Linked DNA regions of Homo sapiens: region 1 is linked to region 2. Evidence: fine-mapped expression QTL. Tissue or cell type: whole blood. Region 2 holds a variant in brackets; the other region holds the start of a gene. All regions are shown on one strand. Distances are from middle to middle.

The links. PIP is the estimated chance that this variant, and not a neighbour inherited with it, causes the effect.
Region 1: it holds the start of TPPP, and the variant in region 2 is fine-mapped to the expression of TPPP in whole blood (TOPMed, PIP 0.98).

What each region holds. Positions count from the first base shown.
Region 1 is chr5:689,204-697,367 of GRCh38, reverse strand. TPPP (tubulin polymerization promoting protein) reads left to right here and starts at 4,016. Exons shown (of 4, transcript NM_007030.3): 1 at 4,016-4,090. It overlaps LOC101929898 (a long non-coding RNA gene), which reads right to left and starts at 3,828. Exons shown (of 2, transcript XR_925675.4): 1 at 3,646-3,828; 2 at 1-3,287. RefSeq lists enhancers at 2,216-3,094, 4,008-4,590 and a silencer at 3,764-4,013.
Region 2 is chr5:664,367-672,546 of GRCh38, reverse strand. TPPP (tubulin polymerization promoting protein) reads left to right here. Exons shown (of 4, transcript NM_007030.3): 3 at 6,424-6,577; 4 at 7,251-8,180. The coding sequence ends at 7,445. It also overlaps a transcript of CEP72 not described here. Among named protein-coding and RNA genes, the nearest start is that of TPPP, 25 kb to the left of the region's middle. RefSeq lists enhancers at 1-154, 752-921, 1,284-1,453, 2,742-3,496, 6,907-7,076. The variant A/T (reference allele first, on the strand shown) is at 3,390.

The DNA.
Region 1 (8,164 bases), 25 kb before region 2:
GCTGTGGAACTGAGGTAGCGATGGCTGGCGTATTAAGAATGTGCTCCAAGCAGCTCAGCCTAGGGCTGAACACCCCCCATTTGGCTTCCCCTCCTCATCAGCCCCTGACCTGTGGCAACAGTGAAGCCGCAAGGCTCACCTGCCGTTCTCTGGGTCACAGGTGTGTGATAGGGGGGCCAGAGTCGCTCCCTGGCAGCAAGACCCGGAACCTGCACTTTAATTCCATGTTCCACAGCAATTCCACCCCCAGAATAACCAGATGCAATCACAGCCCAAACACACACAGGCACGTGCACACACACAGGTGCAAACACACACACATGCACACAAAGACACACAGGCCCATGCACACACAGGCACACGCAGGCACACAGACACATGCACACACATGCAAACACACAGACACAGGCACGTGGACATACAGGTGCAAACACACATGCACACACAGAGACACAGGCACACGCAGACACACTCATACACACAGAGACACACAAATAGACACACACACAGCTGAACATACACAGCTGAACACATACCAACATACATACACCGGCATGCATACTCACACATACAGGTGCACATTCACACATAGGAATGCACAAACACACGCATGCATGTGCACACTCTCACACTCTCACACACAGGTGCACACACACATCCCGGCAGACATTTTCCCTAAGCTGCCAAGGACCCATGGGAGCTGCTTCAACACCCCCATGAGGCTTCCCAGGCCCCACACCCAGGCAGGCACGTCGTTACTTCACTGACCACCCCCTCTGACCTCATGCACCTAGGCTGTAGCTTGTCCCCAGCCCAGGGCCCACACAGGAGCTGGTTAGGGTTCTCAAGGGGCCCTGACTGCTCACCTGCTGTGGGACACACCCCTACGGGGCCCAAAGAAGCTGCTCAGCCTATAGGCCGTCAAAGGACATTCAGCTGCCAGGGGTGGGTGGACACCTGACAGGTCCAGCTGCAGGACACCTCAGTGCTGGGACCCGGCATCCTCACACTTGGCCTCGGAGGCCTTTTCATGTCTGCTGCTGTCCGCGTGAGTCCATTGCTCCCCCCGCTCCCCGTGCCTCTGTCTTCAGCATGGGGCCTCCCAATGGACCTGGGCTCCTGTCCTGGTCTCCCACTGCAGACCCAGATGGCCCAGCATCTCCCACCATCCCTTCCACCCAGGGCTTCCAGTGCTACCCACCATGCTGTGTCTGCTCTTCCCAACCTCCACTGTCAGCCTGAACCTCTACCCACAAAACCCAACCCCAAACCCAGGCAGGGGTGGGCGCGGGTGCCAGGCAGCAGGGGCTTGTCCCGGAGAGCTGTCCTCCTCCTATGTGACAGCTGCCTGGCCTGGTGCTCCCAACTGCGGACGCAGAACCTGTGCAGGAAGCCGTGGAAACAGCTACAAGCAGGCAGGTGTCCCGGGGAACGCTCCTGGTCACTGACACGGTAACACAGGTGGAGCTGGGAAAAGCATTGGTGCTGGGGTGGTAGTGACCCCCACCCAAGAAAGTCACATTGACCCGGAACCTCAGAGTAAGACCTTACGTTAAAATAGGATCTTTGTAGATGTAATTCGATTAAAGATCTTGAGATTATCCCAGCTTCTCCTGGCGGCCCTTAAATCCAGTGACAGGTGTCCCGATAAGCAAAGGAAGAGACAGACACACTAACTCGGGGGAGGAGGCCCCGTGAGGACAGGGGCAGAGGTGGAGCCATGCGGCCACCACCCAGGACCGCCTGGAGCCACAGAAGCTGGAAGAGGTGGGAACCTCCGGAGCGCACAGGCCTTGATCTCGGACTTCTGGCCTCCTAAGCCGTAAGAGGAAAGCCCTGTTGTTCAACCCATTTGTAGTGATTTTCTAAGGATCCCCAGGAAACATCTTATAACGGGACACTTGGCGTGGATCACATCATTGGCTGTGAGTCGGTTTTCAGTAATTGCAGGGTTAATGGAGGCTGTCCAGGTCTGGCAGTGGAGCAAGAGCTGGGGGCCAGGAAGGGCCACCGGACGGGCAGCCATGGCCAGGTGAAGAGCCTGGAGTCCCGAATCAGGATCCACCTCTCCCTGCTGAGCAAGATCCTGTGCCCCTGTTTCTGGTGATTTTGTAAGTGCTGACTGAACCGACTGTCGCTGGGAAATAACACACCCGTGACCCCAAGCCAAAGTTTCACCCACAGACAAGGAAACAGACTCCATGAACACGCCGACTCCCGACGGTAGAACCGGGGTGCCCACCCCAGCCCCGGTCACTGTGTGTCCTGCGCAGGGGCCAGGGCAGCCCAAGGCTCAGCTCTGTCCTCCTGCCCAGACCTCGCTCAGCCCCCTGGACGCCGCCCCGCGCCCGCTGCCTCTCCTCTCCTCTCCTCCCAAAGGCTCCAGGACCATGTCTGCCTCTGAAGCCTGACGTTACCTCCCACTGCGATTTTATTGTAAACTCACTGCATTTATGTCAAGAGAGTTTGTACAGGTTTTGGAAAATGCACTGAAGAGTCCCCTTGTGCCTATTAGGACGGTAAGAACACACCAAGGAGAGATTATTTCATTATTTCTTTGATGCTGTTAGTAGGATCTACCCGAGGGGGAGGCACTCCGGGCTCCGCGGGACGAGAAGGCAGCCGAGCCCGCACCCGAGCAGGAGGGAAGCAGGAGCCGCAGCGTGGCCGCCGCACAGCTTCGGGGGTCCCCCGACTTCCCAGCTGCGAGTGTGGAATTTCTCAGGAGAACTAGACAGAAGCCCATCTCTGGGCAGCACTGAGTGGAAGGAGAAACCACAGGAGAGGAGAGGAAGTGTGGGGCGCGGGACCACCGTGGGGTGGGTGGGGGCCAAGCCGCCGGGCTGTGAGGCCTCAGCACCCCCTGCCCAGCACCCAGCACCCCAACTTCCCCTTCTGCCTTTGCGGATTCCAGGGCCTGCTGGACACCTGGTGCAGGGACAGAGCCGGGGCTGGGGGAGGAGCTCAGCTGCACTAGAGTCCAGCTGGAAGAGTCCAGCTGAAAGTCACCAGAGGCACCCCTTCCTCCTGGGGGGCTGCGCCTCGGCCTCCTCCAGGGCAGGTGCCCCTATGCCCCTCAAGTCCCAGCACCCAGCACCACAGAACCGCCCTGTCATCTCGGCCCCGGAACCTTGTGGGGAGCCAACTCCTGCGGAGGGCCGGGCAGCCCCGGGCGGAATGAGCCCCCTCCGCAAAGCCTGTCTGGGGAGCGGGGGAGGGGCGGCAGGTGCCCGGAGAAAGGCGAGATTGGAAGAGCGGCCGGGATGGTGGCGCTGCATACGGGCGACCTGCAGGGAGAACGGAAGCTGAGGCCGGGGTCAGGGGTGCGCGCTCCGCTCCTCCACTCCTGCGTGAAGGGCGGCCCACTCCCGAGCAGCTGCGCTGGGCGCCCGGCACGGACCCGTCTCCCTGCTCAGGTCGATCCCCGGCCGCGCTGCCCCCACCTGGAAGCCCAGTCCCCTGGGTGCGCCCCGCCTTGGGGTCCGAGCACCCTCACAGCCCGGCCCTGCCGCTTCCCTGCACCGTCTGCGGCTCCTTAAAGAACTGGGCGCGGTCGGGGCTCGCCCCGCACCGTCCTCGAGGCCCCGCCGCCAACCCACCCCACCCCAGGAGGCCGCGGCCGCGCTCATCCATCCCCCGCCGCACCGTCAACGCGCGTCCTGCGGGGCGGAGAGATCGGGGTCCGGTCGTCCCCGGGGGGCCCCAGAGCCAGGTGAGGGGCCCCGCCGCCCCCTGCCCAGCGGTTCCCACGACCCGCGGGTCGGCCGCGCCCTGCGCTGAGCGGATACCCGGCGGTCCGCGGGGCCTGAGCAGAGTCGGCCTTGTAAGGCAGAGGTCTCGGTGCGCCCGCGCGTCCCCGGGCCGGGTGGGGCGGCGGGGGCGGGGCTGCCAATGAGCGCGCGGGGCGGGACGCTGGGCGGGCGCCGGACGCTGGGGGCCGGGGGCGGGCCCGGGACCGGGCTGGGCGGGGCTGGGCGGTGCTGGGCGGGACGGGCGGGCGCGGGGCGGCGGCTGGAGAGCTCCGCTGAGCACCGGGTCGCGCGCGGCCGAGTCGCGGAGGCGCCTCCGCTGCAGTCGCTGCGTCTCCAAGGTAAGCGGGCGCGGGGCTCGGTCCCGCGGGCGCGGCGCGGGGGGCACCCGGGGGCGGAGACTGGGCCCGTCAGCCCCAGCAGCCACCTGCGCCGCAGCCCCTGCCCCCCGCGCTCCCCCGAGCCCCCTTCCCGGACCGCCCCGCGCGTCCCTGAGCCCCCGGATTGGGATGCCCGGAGTTCGGCGCTGCGGGCTCGGTGCGAGGACGCGACGGGGAGGCTTTGCAAAGGCCGCGAGCGGGGGTCACCGTCGGCCGCGCCAGGGACAGGTCTGTCACCGTCTCCGGGCCCTGTGCCTGGCGCTTTGGCCTTTCTTCGCGGCCACGGACGCCCCTGCAGCCCTTCCCTCCAGACCCTCCCCAGCTCGGGACTCGAACCGTTTCCCTATTCCCAGGCCTAGGGGGCCGCCGGTGTGAGGCGTGGGAAATTAGGGCGTGGAGGGCTGGAATGAAGTCACTGCCCGCAGCAGGTTTTGAGAGATCCCTGGCCACAGAAACGGCCCATCTCAGGGTCCTGACACCACCGCGTCCTGGCAGGTGGGGCTGTCAGACCGCCCCCCGCAGAGCCTCCAGCTGCCCCGGGTCTTGGCTACTGTCCGCGGGCCTGTGGCGATGGAGAGGCGCTGCCGGGACACCTTCCCGCACCCCTGGGAGCAGCGCCCGAAGATCTGAGGAGCCCTTTATTCTGCGGTTTCGGTTACGTAAACGGAGCCGAGGGAGGTGAGAAGCCTGTCCCTCCCGGGCAGTGGCGGGGCTGCTGTTTTGATAAGGGTTTTGGGGGGGCTGTTGTCTTGATGGGGGTTTGGGGGGCTGCTGTTTTGATAGGGGTTGGGAGGCTGCTATTTTGATACGGGGTTGGGGGCTGCTGTTTTGATAGGGGTTTGGGGGGCTGCTGTTTTGATAGGGGGTTGGAGGGCTGCTGTTTTGATAGGGTTGGGGGACTGCTGTTTTGATAGGGGGTTGGGAGCTGCAGTTTTGATAGGGGTTTGGGGGCTGCTGTTTTGATAGGGGGTTGGGAGGCTGCTGTTTTGATAGGTGGTTGGGAGGCTACTGTTTTGATAGGGGGTTGGGGGGCTGCTGTTTTGATAGGGGTTGGGGGCTGCTGTTTTGATAGGTGGTTGGGGGCTGCTGTTTTGATGGGGTCTGGGGGGCTGCTGTTTTGATGTGGGGTTGGGAGGCTGCTGTCTTGATGGGGGCTTAGGGGGGCTGCTGTTTTGATAGGGGGTTGGGGGCTGCTGTTTTGATAGGGGTTGGGAGGCTGCTGTTTTGATAGGGGTTGGGGGGCTGCTGTTTTGATGGGGTCTGGGGGCTGCTGTTTTGATGAGGGGTTGGGGGCTGCTGTTTTGATACGGGTTGGGGGGGCTGTTGTCTTGATGGGGGTTTGGGGGGCTGCTGTTTTGATGGGGGTTTAGGGGGCTGCTGTTTTGATGGGGGTTGAGGGCTGCTGTTTTGATGGGGGTTGAGGGCTGCTGTTTTGATGAGGGTTGGGGGCTGTTTTGATGGGTATTTGGGGGCTGCTGTTTTGATGGGGGTTGGGGGCTGCTGTTTTGATGGGGGTTGGGGGCTATTGTTTTGATGGGGTTTGGGGGGCTGCTGTTTTGATGGGTATTTGGGGGCTGCTGTTTTGATGGGGGTTGGGGGCTGCTGTTTTGATGGGGTTTGGGGGCTGCTGTTTTGATGGGGGTTGGGGGCTATTGTTTTGATGGGGGTTGGGGGGCTGCTGTTTTGATGGGGTGTTGCGTTCCCTCTCAGTGTCACCGCTGATCCACCTGGCATGTTTATTGGCTCTTCTGCTTGCAGGGCCCCTGGGGGACCGATAGAGGACTGGGCCCCTCCGCCCACCCCGGCCACCCCTCCCCGCCTGACTTCTCAGGGGGAGAGGTCTCCCCCCACGCCCAGCCAGCCCCTGCCCCTGGGAGGTGACCCAGCTCCCTGTGGCCTGGGACTAGGAGATGGGGCTGGACCAAGGCCGGGAAGGGGCAGGAAGTGGAGGGGAGTGAGGCAGCTGCAGCCTGATGCCGCCGCCTTGAACTGGGCTCTCGCGCCTGTCAGCCGCTCGGTGCCAGCGCCTCCCCACCACGTGATCCTCGGAGGGCCTGTGGGGGAGGGGCGGGCTCCCGGAGCGGCTGCAGAAGGCGAGCTCCAGGAGGGTGTGTGCGTTTTCCCGGGAGGGGTCTGCAGCTTTCATGGTTTCTAAACGGATCTCTGATTCAGAAAGGCGCCGGCATGAACTCGCTTTGCATCTTCACAAAACATGAAGTCATGGGGATTGGACCGCGTGTGCGTGGAGGAAGCTCCGCTGGTCACTGGCTGCGTTTTAATCTTACAGCTGCGGTTGGTCTATCTTCCCGAATTCCCTGAAGTTGCAATAAATGTTTTAGCGATTATACGAGGTTATAAATGCTCGTTGTGGAAATGAGCATAGAATGCTCACAGAAATGGTCAACAGGGGCTTCCTTTTGACCCCCTACCCTAATTTGCAAGCCTCACACTGGCAGTGGCTGCCCTAGGCCTGGGAATCGGTAAACAGGGTTCGTGCACCGGGCTGGGCAGGGCCCGGAGGGAGGGGCCGCAGGGGGCTTCCGTGGGCACAAAGGCCAAAGCGCCACACGCAGGGCTCAGGAGAACTTCCTGAAGAAAATTAGGATCACCCATCGCAGATGGAGACTGGGGAGCTCTCTGGAGAGTCAGGCAGTCTGTTCCCTCCCAGGCCTGTGGGAGCCACCCCCTGCAGAGGACGCAGAGAATTAAAAGCTTCCTCGGGAGAGGCCGTGCCAGCAGAGAGCCGAGTCTATTTATAGCTGTTGGTGAGACAGGGGGAGTGTGTGAGAGGGATGCCATCTGGGGCTCTTGGGGCCCCCAGGCCAGTGCTGGTCAGCGCCCTGCAGTACCTGGCCCAGCCTGGTGCCCTCAGGCAGAAGCGCCTTCGGGAAAACACTCTGGGTGAGGAGAGTCGCTCAATGCCTCCGCCTGGGCTGGGGGAGCCAGAAGGCTATGCCCAGGAGGGTTGTGGCCGGGTGTCTAGTCCATCTGAGCCCACAAACCCTCAGCCAGGAGCCAGGATCAGGCAGCAGAATCTACACACGCCTAGTTCCTACTGCTCGAGCAAAAGGTGTTTCCTGGGAAGGAAGGGGTGGAGCTGCCTGGGTCAGGCCCAGCCACATCTGGGGCTCAGGCCTTGTCCCCAGCATCCACGAGCCAAACCCCAAGCTGCCCTGCGTGGATCCTCCTCCTAGGGAGACCAGCTTCTTCTTGGTGTGTGTGTGTTTGGGGTTGCCACAGGGCCATAACCCACTGCATCCCCCTGATAAGATCTTCCACCCAGGGCAGCCCCCACCCAGGGCAGCCCCCACCCAGTTGATCCCCCACCCAGATGATCCTCCACCCAGATGATCCCCCACCCAGATGATCCCCCACCCAGATGATCTGCCACCTGGATGATCCCCCACCGGGGACATCCCCCACCCAGGGCAGCCCCCACTCAGATGATCCCCCACCCGGGGCAGCCCCCACCCAGATGATCTCTCACACAGGGCTTCCCTCCTAGGGCATCTGCAACAGGCTTTCCCCCTAAGGTGACATCCCCCTCCCAGGACATCCACATCCCAGAGCCACCCCCTCCCAGAGCCACCCCCTAGGCCATTCCTTCACCAAGGCTCCACCACCCAGGACAACCCCCACAAAGATTCCCCACCCAGAGCATCCTCCCCACATGGCATCTCCACCCAGGGTATTCCCCCACCCAGGGCATGTTCCCCACATGGCATCCCACGTTTGACTTCTTGGCATGATAAAAGGTGCCTGCCCATGTGGGCTCCATGAGATCCCCCAGGGCGCATGGCATCACAGACCACATTTCCCAGATCCTATAACCTGTAACCCCAACCTGCTCGTTTGTTCACAAATGTCCAACGTGGCCTCCGCCCAGGGAGTGCCACCAACAGCCGCACCTGCCAGGCGACTTCACACAGCTGCTGTCCCCCTCTGGCCATCAGTCATCAGTCAATGGGGCCAGGAGCAGTGAGCACCGTGTATGGGGTATGGAGGTGGCTTCAAACCCAGGCCCTGGTCCAAGGG
Region 2 (8,180 bases):
CTATGGGTCCATCTAGCTCAGGTGGGGGCACCCAGCCGATGAGGCAGAGGAAGGAGGGCTGGGCTGCGGTCTCAGCTGGCTGGGAGCCCTGGCCTCCCCCAGGACCCACGCTTGTGTGCTGGGTGTGGTGTATTTTCCCAAGTAAATGCACTGACGTTTCCTATAGACACCTGGGTGGATACTGGGTGGTGGCTTGGCTTGGGGGTTAGACTGATACCTGGACGCTGGTTAGAAGGAAGCCAGGGCCAGTGGGAGACTGAGAACAGCAGGGCCAGGCTCCCTGGGGTCTGCGGTTGCCCCGAGCGTGGAGGGCTGCTGAGCCTGGTACACCCCCCCGGCCAGCCGGCACTGGGGTCTGTGGTCACCCCAAGTGTGGAGGGCCGGTAGGACACTTTGTCCTAAAGTCTTCGGACTGTTCCCAGTACGGAAGCCAACCCAACCACCTCCCAGGAGCAGGACCCAGGTTTGGAGAGAATCCAGGTCACAGTGTGTTTGGAGGGCAGCCGCCACAGGGCAAGTGAGGTCCTCAGAGCACTGTGTGTGACGTCCTCCTGTCTGTCCATCCCAGAAAAGCAGGTGTCAGCTTCCCTGGAAGGGGCCAGGAGCCTCAGGGCTGCATTGCTCCCCTCCCCCTCCCCCGTGGTACCCAGCCCGGGGGAAGGGTGGGCTGCACTCCCCACACCCAACCCTGTCCCTCCATTGCTGTGGGTGCCACCCTGTCCCGGGCTTGCACTCGGCGGCTCTGGAGCCCTGGGGCCAGTTCTGTCTTTGGGGAGCCTCTAGTGGCCACGCCTGGCAGGGCAGGATGAACGTGGCTTCCGCAGAGTGGAGCCCCTGCGGGGGGACCCTTGGCCATGGACGTCTGTGGCTGAGGGTTCAGGAGCTTGTGGCCTCACAGTCAAGGCCTGTGGCTCCTGTACCCTGCAGGCCGGGCAGCACCAGCAATCCCCAGAGCACTGTGCGGCGACAGGCACCCGTCTCCTGCGCTTGGCCAGTGGTGGGCGTGGCCTTGGCTGTCCACTTTGCCCCATGAGCCTGACCAGGCAACACAGGTCATTTGAGAAGGTGATCTCCAAACAAACAGCCAGAAACTGACTTCAGGTGCACAGACCAAAGCCCTGCCCAGGCCGAGACTGGGGTGGATGGAGGCAGCCGAGCCCCTGGGGCCCCCTAGAGAAGGTCGGGCCCCTCAGATCTGCCCGGGGTCCCTCTGGGCCCCAAGTCCACGTCCCACCAAGGGCCACCTCTTCCTAGTGATGTCCACAGGGCGGTGACTACACACGCCCCACCCCCGCCCCTCCCCAGGAAAACGAAAAGGCCGGCAGCAACGCAAAATTAATTAGCAGCAAGCGCAGGGTGTGCGCCCAGAGGGAGACAGTGCGCTGATCCCAGGCGGCCCCTCAGGCAGGGGGGAGCCTTCGGTAGCCAGACCTCCGGAGCTCAGGCAGCCCCCCGACCGGCTGTGTGGGGGCTTCATGGTGGGTGTGCCTGGGGTTAGAGCTGGTGCAGCAATGGGAGGGCCCTGGCCCTCAGCCCGCCCTGGGGCCTGAGCTGCCGTGGCCCAGTGGACGTTGCCATCCATCCTCTGAGCCAAGTAGGGTGCAGGAAGGGCTCCGGTTTCCTGAGATGAGGGGAGAAGCCCTCTCAGGTGGCCAGACATCACCTCACCTGCCCCCAGGTGCTCAGCTGCTGGTGGAGTCACTTATGAGGGGAGAATAGGCAGGGCCTGGAGGGCTTGCCACCGACCTCTGTCGGCCCCGGGAAACGTTGCTCTAGGTCCTCTGTATCTTGCTGGGGCTTGCGGGAGGCAGGGGCGGCCAACAGGCATGGGGAACCCCAAGGCTGGGTCCTGCTGGAACGGGACCACTGGACCCTCCTGGAGCAGTGAGAACTCGGAGCGACGTGCAGGATGGCGATGCCAGACAGGGCTCCCCTAAGGCCGCGTCCCTACCAGGTAGGAACCTCCCCAGAAGCTCCCCCTCCCCCCGTGGGGCCCAGCAGCCAGGGAGTCCTTCCCAGCCTCCTCAGGTCTCAGGGGCTAATGGAAGATCCCAGAGGTTGGTGCCCTGGGGGAGCCGCAGCCCCTCTCTCTCAGACTCGCCTAAGTACAGGGAGAGGCTGTTTCCCCAGAGATTCCCCTCCACAGCCCCCAGCTTCCCACCTGTGGCAGCCTCTGGACAGGGCACTCCAGCCACAGCAGCTGCAGGCCCAGAGAGCCCAGGGGAGCTGGTAGCTGTCACCTCGCCCGCCGGCCCCCGCCCCTCAGAGAGGGCACCATGGGAGGGCATTCCTGATTCACAAGGGTGCTGGATGCACAGTCCCGAGCCCAGCGGGGCCTGTGACGTCCGCCCCGGAGGAACAGGCCTCAGTCCTCGGAGGGCTGTCCTGGCCTGAGCCCAGCTCCTGGAGGCCCCAGGCCGGGTCCCAGTGTCCCTGAGAGACTGAACCAGGCCCAGAGGCCAGGGGACTCAGAGCCTGGGAAGCAAGTCCAGGCCCCGCAGGGCATCGTGTATGAGCAGCGGCTGCGTCCTGCTGGGCCGGCTTTGGGGCAGGGCGCCGGGCTGGGGAGAGCATGGGCAATGAGGATGCCGAGCTCCACACTCGGAGGCTCCTCCAGCACCCTGGTCTCTGGAGGACAGGCCCACTCTATGTCAGGAGAGCCGGGCAGCCAGACTGAGTGTCTCTGGGGAAGAGGCAGGCACCGCTGTCCTAGAACTCCTGAGGACTGCCCCAGGCGGGGGGCACCCGGGTCTCCTGGGGAGAGCTCCCCGCCCGTGTGGGGCAGAGACCCGGGCGCCCTTTCCCCGAGACACTCGGGGAGCGCGCAGAGCAGGTGTCCGGATCTGAATGTCGCCTCTGATGGGGGAGCCCCTCAGCCATCCCCCTCCCGCCGAGTGACTCATGCTGGTGGTGCCTGGCTCCGAGGCCGTCAGAAAGGGCTGCGTGCCTCAGCACTGGTCACCAGGCTGGCAGTCAGGCCTGGCGTCCGCATGTCAGCTTGGGCAGGGTGGGAATAGAAGACAGGAGAGCCTTTGACGGCCCAGGACAGACAGAGGCCCCAAGGGCCCCAGAGAGTCAACACCCCCACAGGGCCCAATGGGCACTGTCAGTTCCAGGCACTGTGGGCTGCCTGGGGTGGCCTGGCTCTTCTAGCACCACAGGGAACGTGCGGGTGTCCACGCCGAGCGCGTCAAGGGGCTAAATCCACCCCCAACACCGCGGACCCCCACGCCACAGAGCTGCCCAGGGCACCTCCGGCTCACCGGGCTCACCAGCGCCCCCTGGGGGATGCTGCTGGACAACAGCGCCCTATGGCCGGCGGGTCTGGAATGTGCCCTGCGTGGCTGCCCTCAGCAGTCCAGGCCCCGCCCTGGGGCTCTGTCTCCCCA[A/T]AGCCCCCTCCGGACACAGCGAGGCCTCCGCTCCCCTCCCTGGGACCCCATGAGGCGTGAGGGTCTGAGCTGTGGGACCCCGAGCACTTGGTGTGTTTCTCAGCGCGATTTCTTCTTTGGCTCAGCGCTGTTGATGGTGTCTGTTGTGTCTTTAGGACACGCGTGTAAAGTGTATGGGAACCCTCAGGTGCTGTTTAAACACAGCATCCGCCTTGGGGTCTGGGAATCACCCAGCGGCACCTCCGTGCCTGGCTCCAAGCCTGGCCACTTGGCACCCACCGCGTTGGGTGCGTATCCTGGGCTTGTTCTCGAGGGGTGGGGGTGCTGTCCACGTGCGCACACATCACAGCACTGTGGTCTGGCCGCTGCTGAAGGGCACTGGATTGTTTGGGGTTTGGTGACTACGAGCAGAACAGTGGTAAACATTTGCGTTTATGTGTGAGCCTCTGTTTTCATTTCTCTTGAGCAAGGACCCAGGAACGGGACTGCTGGGCCACCTTTGGCTGTGATGAGAAGCTGTCCACAGTGGCTCTGCCGCGTTGCTCGGCCGGGTGTGGACGAGGCCCCCACCCCGCGGCCTGCTCAGCTCGAGGTGCCGGCAGTTTATTTGATTGTCTGAGCCCCCTGGAGAGTGTGCAGGGGCCTCGCTGTGGTTTCCATCTGCACTTCCCTGACGGCGCCCACGCGGCCCCCTCTCCGTGTGCTTGTCCGCACTTCCCTGACGGCGCCCACGCGGCCCCCTCTCTGTGTGCTTGTCGGTACTTCCCTGACGAGGCCCACGCGGACCCCTCTCCAGTGTGCTTGTCCGCACTTCCCTGACGGCGCCCACACGGCCCCCTCTCTGTGTGCTTGTCGGTACTTCCCTGACGGCGCCCACGCGGACCCCTCTCCGTGTGCTTGTCCGCACTTCCCTGACGGCGCCCACACGGCCCCCTCTCTGTGTGCTTGTCGGTACTTCCCTGACGGCGCCCACGCGGACCCCTCTCCGTGTGCTTGTCGGTACTTCCCTGACGGGGCCCACGCGGACCCCTCTCCGTGTGCTTGTCGGTACTTCCCTGATGGGGCCCACGCGGACCCCTCTCCAGTGTGCTTGTCGGTACTTCCCTGACGGCGCCCACACGGCCCCCTCTCTGTGTGCTTGTCGGTACTTCCCTGACGGCGCCCACACGGCCCCCTCTCTGTGTGCTTGTCCGCACTTCCCTGACGGCGCCCACACGGCCCCCTCTCTGTGTGCTTGTCGGTACTTCCCTGACGGCGCCCACACGGCCCCCTCTCTGTGTGCTTGTCGGTACTTCCCTGACGGCGCCCACGCGGACCCCTCTCCGTGTGCTTGTCTGTACTTCCCTGATGGGGCCCACGCGGACCCCTCTCCGTGTGCTTGTCTGCATGCACGTGTCTTCTCTGGTGGTGTCTGCTTCAAATATTCTGCCCGTCTTTTCACATGGATTTTTTTTCTTACTGCTGAGTTTTAAGGTTCCTTTGTGTATCTCAGAGACAAGTCCTTTCTCAGGCATGTCTCCTAGTCTGTGGCTTGTCTTCTCATTCCCTTAACGGTGTCTTCTGAGAGCAGAGTTTCGAACGTTTTGATGAAGTCTAGTTCATCCATTTTTTCCACTATAGGCCATGTTTTGTTGCCATTTCTAAGAAATCTTCGCCTAACCCCAGGTCACAGAGATCTTCTCTTTGGTGTTCTTCTAGAAGTTTTAGTTTCATAATTAGGACCGTCATCTATTTTGAGTTAGTTTTGTATATAGTGTGCAGTATAGACCAAAGTGCATTTTAATTTGCACAGGGATCACCAGTTGCTCCAGCTCCACTTGTGGAAGAAACAGTCCTTTCTCTCTGGCTTGCCTCTGCACCTGTAGACATCGGGGGGGCAGCATGCATGTGGCTGAGCCAGACTCCCCCTGGGCTGCGGGGCTGGCCGCGTGCCCGTGCCCACGTCGCTGCCACTTTGCAGTCAAGCCTCGATGAGCTTTGGAGTTGGGTAGTCAGTCTTCTGACTCTGTTCTCATTTCTTGAAATCGTTTTGGCTATTCTAGGCCCTCTGCTCACTGACTTCTGGAAAGGCTTGCTGGGGTTTTATGGGTCATTTGTCCCCTGACTCTTGGTCACTGTGGATTCTGCAGCTGGGAGTGCCCTCGGAATGCTTGGCCTGCTGGGTGCAGCCTTTCTCGCGCTGTCCAGAGGCTTCCCTGGTGAAATGCAGGTGCCTTTTGCAGAGCTGAGCCTCATCCACAGGATCTCTTGTTTTAAACACTGAAAAACCCCACTTTGGGTTAGTTGTGGTAGATCTGGTCAGAGGAGAAAAATGTTTTCTAATTAGAATTATTATATAAAAACCAAGAGTCAGTTTAGAACCCTCTAAAATTGCCTGAATGGCCTGTGGTGGGAGGATGTTGTAAGGCGTGGACTGTGTTTAGATGTGGCGTGTTGTGTGACCAGAAGCTTCTCATGGCACCTCCGGCCCACCGGGCTCTGCACCTCTGAGGCCAGAGCAGTGCAAGGGCACAGCGGGGCCGCCTGGCGGGTTTTGGAGCCAGGGCATCTGAGGCGTGGGCCTGCGCCCATGCTGCCAAGTGTCCGGGGGCGGCAGCCCCTCCTAACCATGTTCCTGTGTGGGGGACACCTCCACCTAGGACCCCAACACACACAGGCAGAGCCGGGGCCCCAGCAGGTCCTAGGACCCCCAGCTCCCGGCGCAGCTGGGCGGGGCTGTGGTGGCCCCGGGAGGAGGAGGTGGGCTCCGCTGCCTAATGGCCTCCGGCACTGCCCCAGCAGAGTGCAGACCCGCACACACCCTGTGTCAGAGCGGCCTGCAGGGCCGTGTGAGCATCCAGCTTTATAGAGGACCTGCTTCCGCCAAGCTTTCTTCCAAGACAGTTTGGATTTGCAGTGCTACCAGGGCGGCCGCCTGTGGGTGAAGCCTGTGGGCTGCTGGGCCATGGCTGTCCAGCTCTGCTCAGACCCACGCGTGGGGAGGGCAGCCCTGGGCCGGCCCGCGCCCAGCCCTAAGTCGCCTGTGCCCCTGTAGAGGGAAGTCTTGCCGGACCATCACCTTTGAGCAGTTCCAGGAGGCGCTGGAGGAGCTCGCCAAGAAGCGATTCAAAGACAAGAGCAGCGAGGAGGCCGTTCGCGAGGTGCACAGGCTCATCGAGGGCAAGGCGCCCATCATCTCAGGGGTGACGGTGAGCAGGGCGGGGATGGAAGGCGGGGCCTGGAGGGGGTGGGGGCGGGGCCTGGAAGGTGGGTGGTGCCTGGGGGAGGGGTGGTCAGGAGGGACATGGATTGGGGGCGTGACCTGGGGGGGGTCCTGGGAGGCGTGGTCAGGAGGGCGTGGCCTGGTGTGGGGTCTGAGGAGGTGTGGTCAGAAGGGGCATGAATGGGGCATAGCCTGGAGGGTGAGGCCTGGGGAGGCGTGGTCAGGAAGGGCATGGACTGGGAGTTGGCCTGGGAGGGGGTGGGTGGGTCCTGGGAGGCATGGCCAGGTCGGCGTGGCCTGGGGGGGTCCTGGGGAGGCTTGGTCTGAAGGGGCATGGATTGGGGGGGCATAGCCTGGAGGGTGGGGCCTGGCTGTTCTGACAGCCCCTTCCCTCTGAGGGTGCAGGTGGTGGGGTCCCCAACTACATAAACACCAGGTGGACCTGGGCAATTGTTAGGGTTGTGGCACCCCGCAGGCCCAAGGCTGCCCCAGGGTCAGGAGAGGTAAAAATAAGAATTAAAAGGGGCATAAATCCCAGGGTTTATGCCCCTTGCCCAGTGCCCCACCGCTGGGAGACCTGCCCAGGGCACAGCCATTTCACTTGCTGGCCTCACCTGGCTCGCAACTCACCTGCCCCCTTCCTCCTGCTCCTCTTGCAGAAAGCCATCTCGTCGCCCACAGTGTCGAGGCTCACGGACACCACCAAGTTCACGGGCTCCCACAAGGAGCGCTTCGACCCCTCTGGCAAGGGCAAGGGCAAGGCTGGCCGCGTGGATCTGGTGGACGAGTCAGGCTATGTGTCCGGCTACAAGCACGCAGGCACCTACGACCAGAAGGTGCAAGGGGGCAAGTAGCCCCCGCTCCATGCCTCGCGGCACTGCCGGTGTCCCCAGAGCAGGGACTCTGTCACCTCGCACTTCATTACATTCCTGTACTAACTGGGGCAGAACTCAGACGGGTGCCCCAGAGGGGGCTGGGGGGCGGCCAGGCCCAGGCCTCCCTCCTGCCCCTCCTCCTACCGGATGCCCCCAGCACTCCCCTCTCAAACCAGGTTTGGGCCCCAGTTCGCTGACCCTCCTAATACACCTGCCTCGTCCTCAGCCATTTCCAAAGTGTCTCGCGGATCACACCACACTGGGCACGTGGTTTGCAGGTCAAAGGGGCGTTTTAAAGCAGCTGGCTGTCATGGCAACAGGAGGCTGTGCTGACCTCCTGAGCGGCAGACACCTTCCAGGAGCCCTGAGGGTGGCAGGAGCTAACCCCAACCAGCAGGCAACTAACACGGAATTGGCCCCACACCGGACGTGGGAGGTGTCTGTGGGGCCCGAGGCCTGTCCTGTGTGCAGCGGACACCACGGGGCCTTCCTGCTTTCCTGGGCAGAGGGCAGAGTGAGGCCACCTGGCGGGGGTGCTGGGCGCCTGGCACATGTGTGGGGAAGCCGGTCACATGGACACACCTGTGCACACATGCCTACAGGCCAGCTCTGTGCCAAGGGCAACCTAGGTAAAACGAAAGCCGTCAGGGGCAGTGGGCGGCTTCCCGGCTGACCACAGTGGCTTGGACTGTGAGGGTAGAGTAGGCTCGCTTT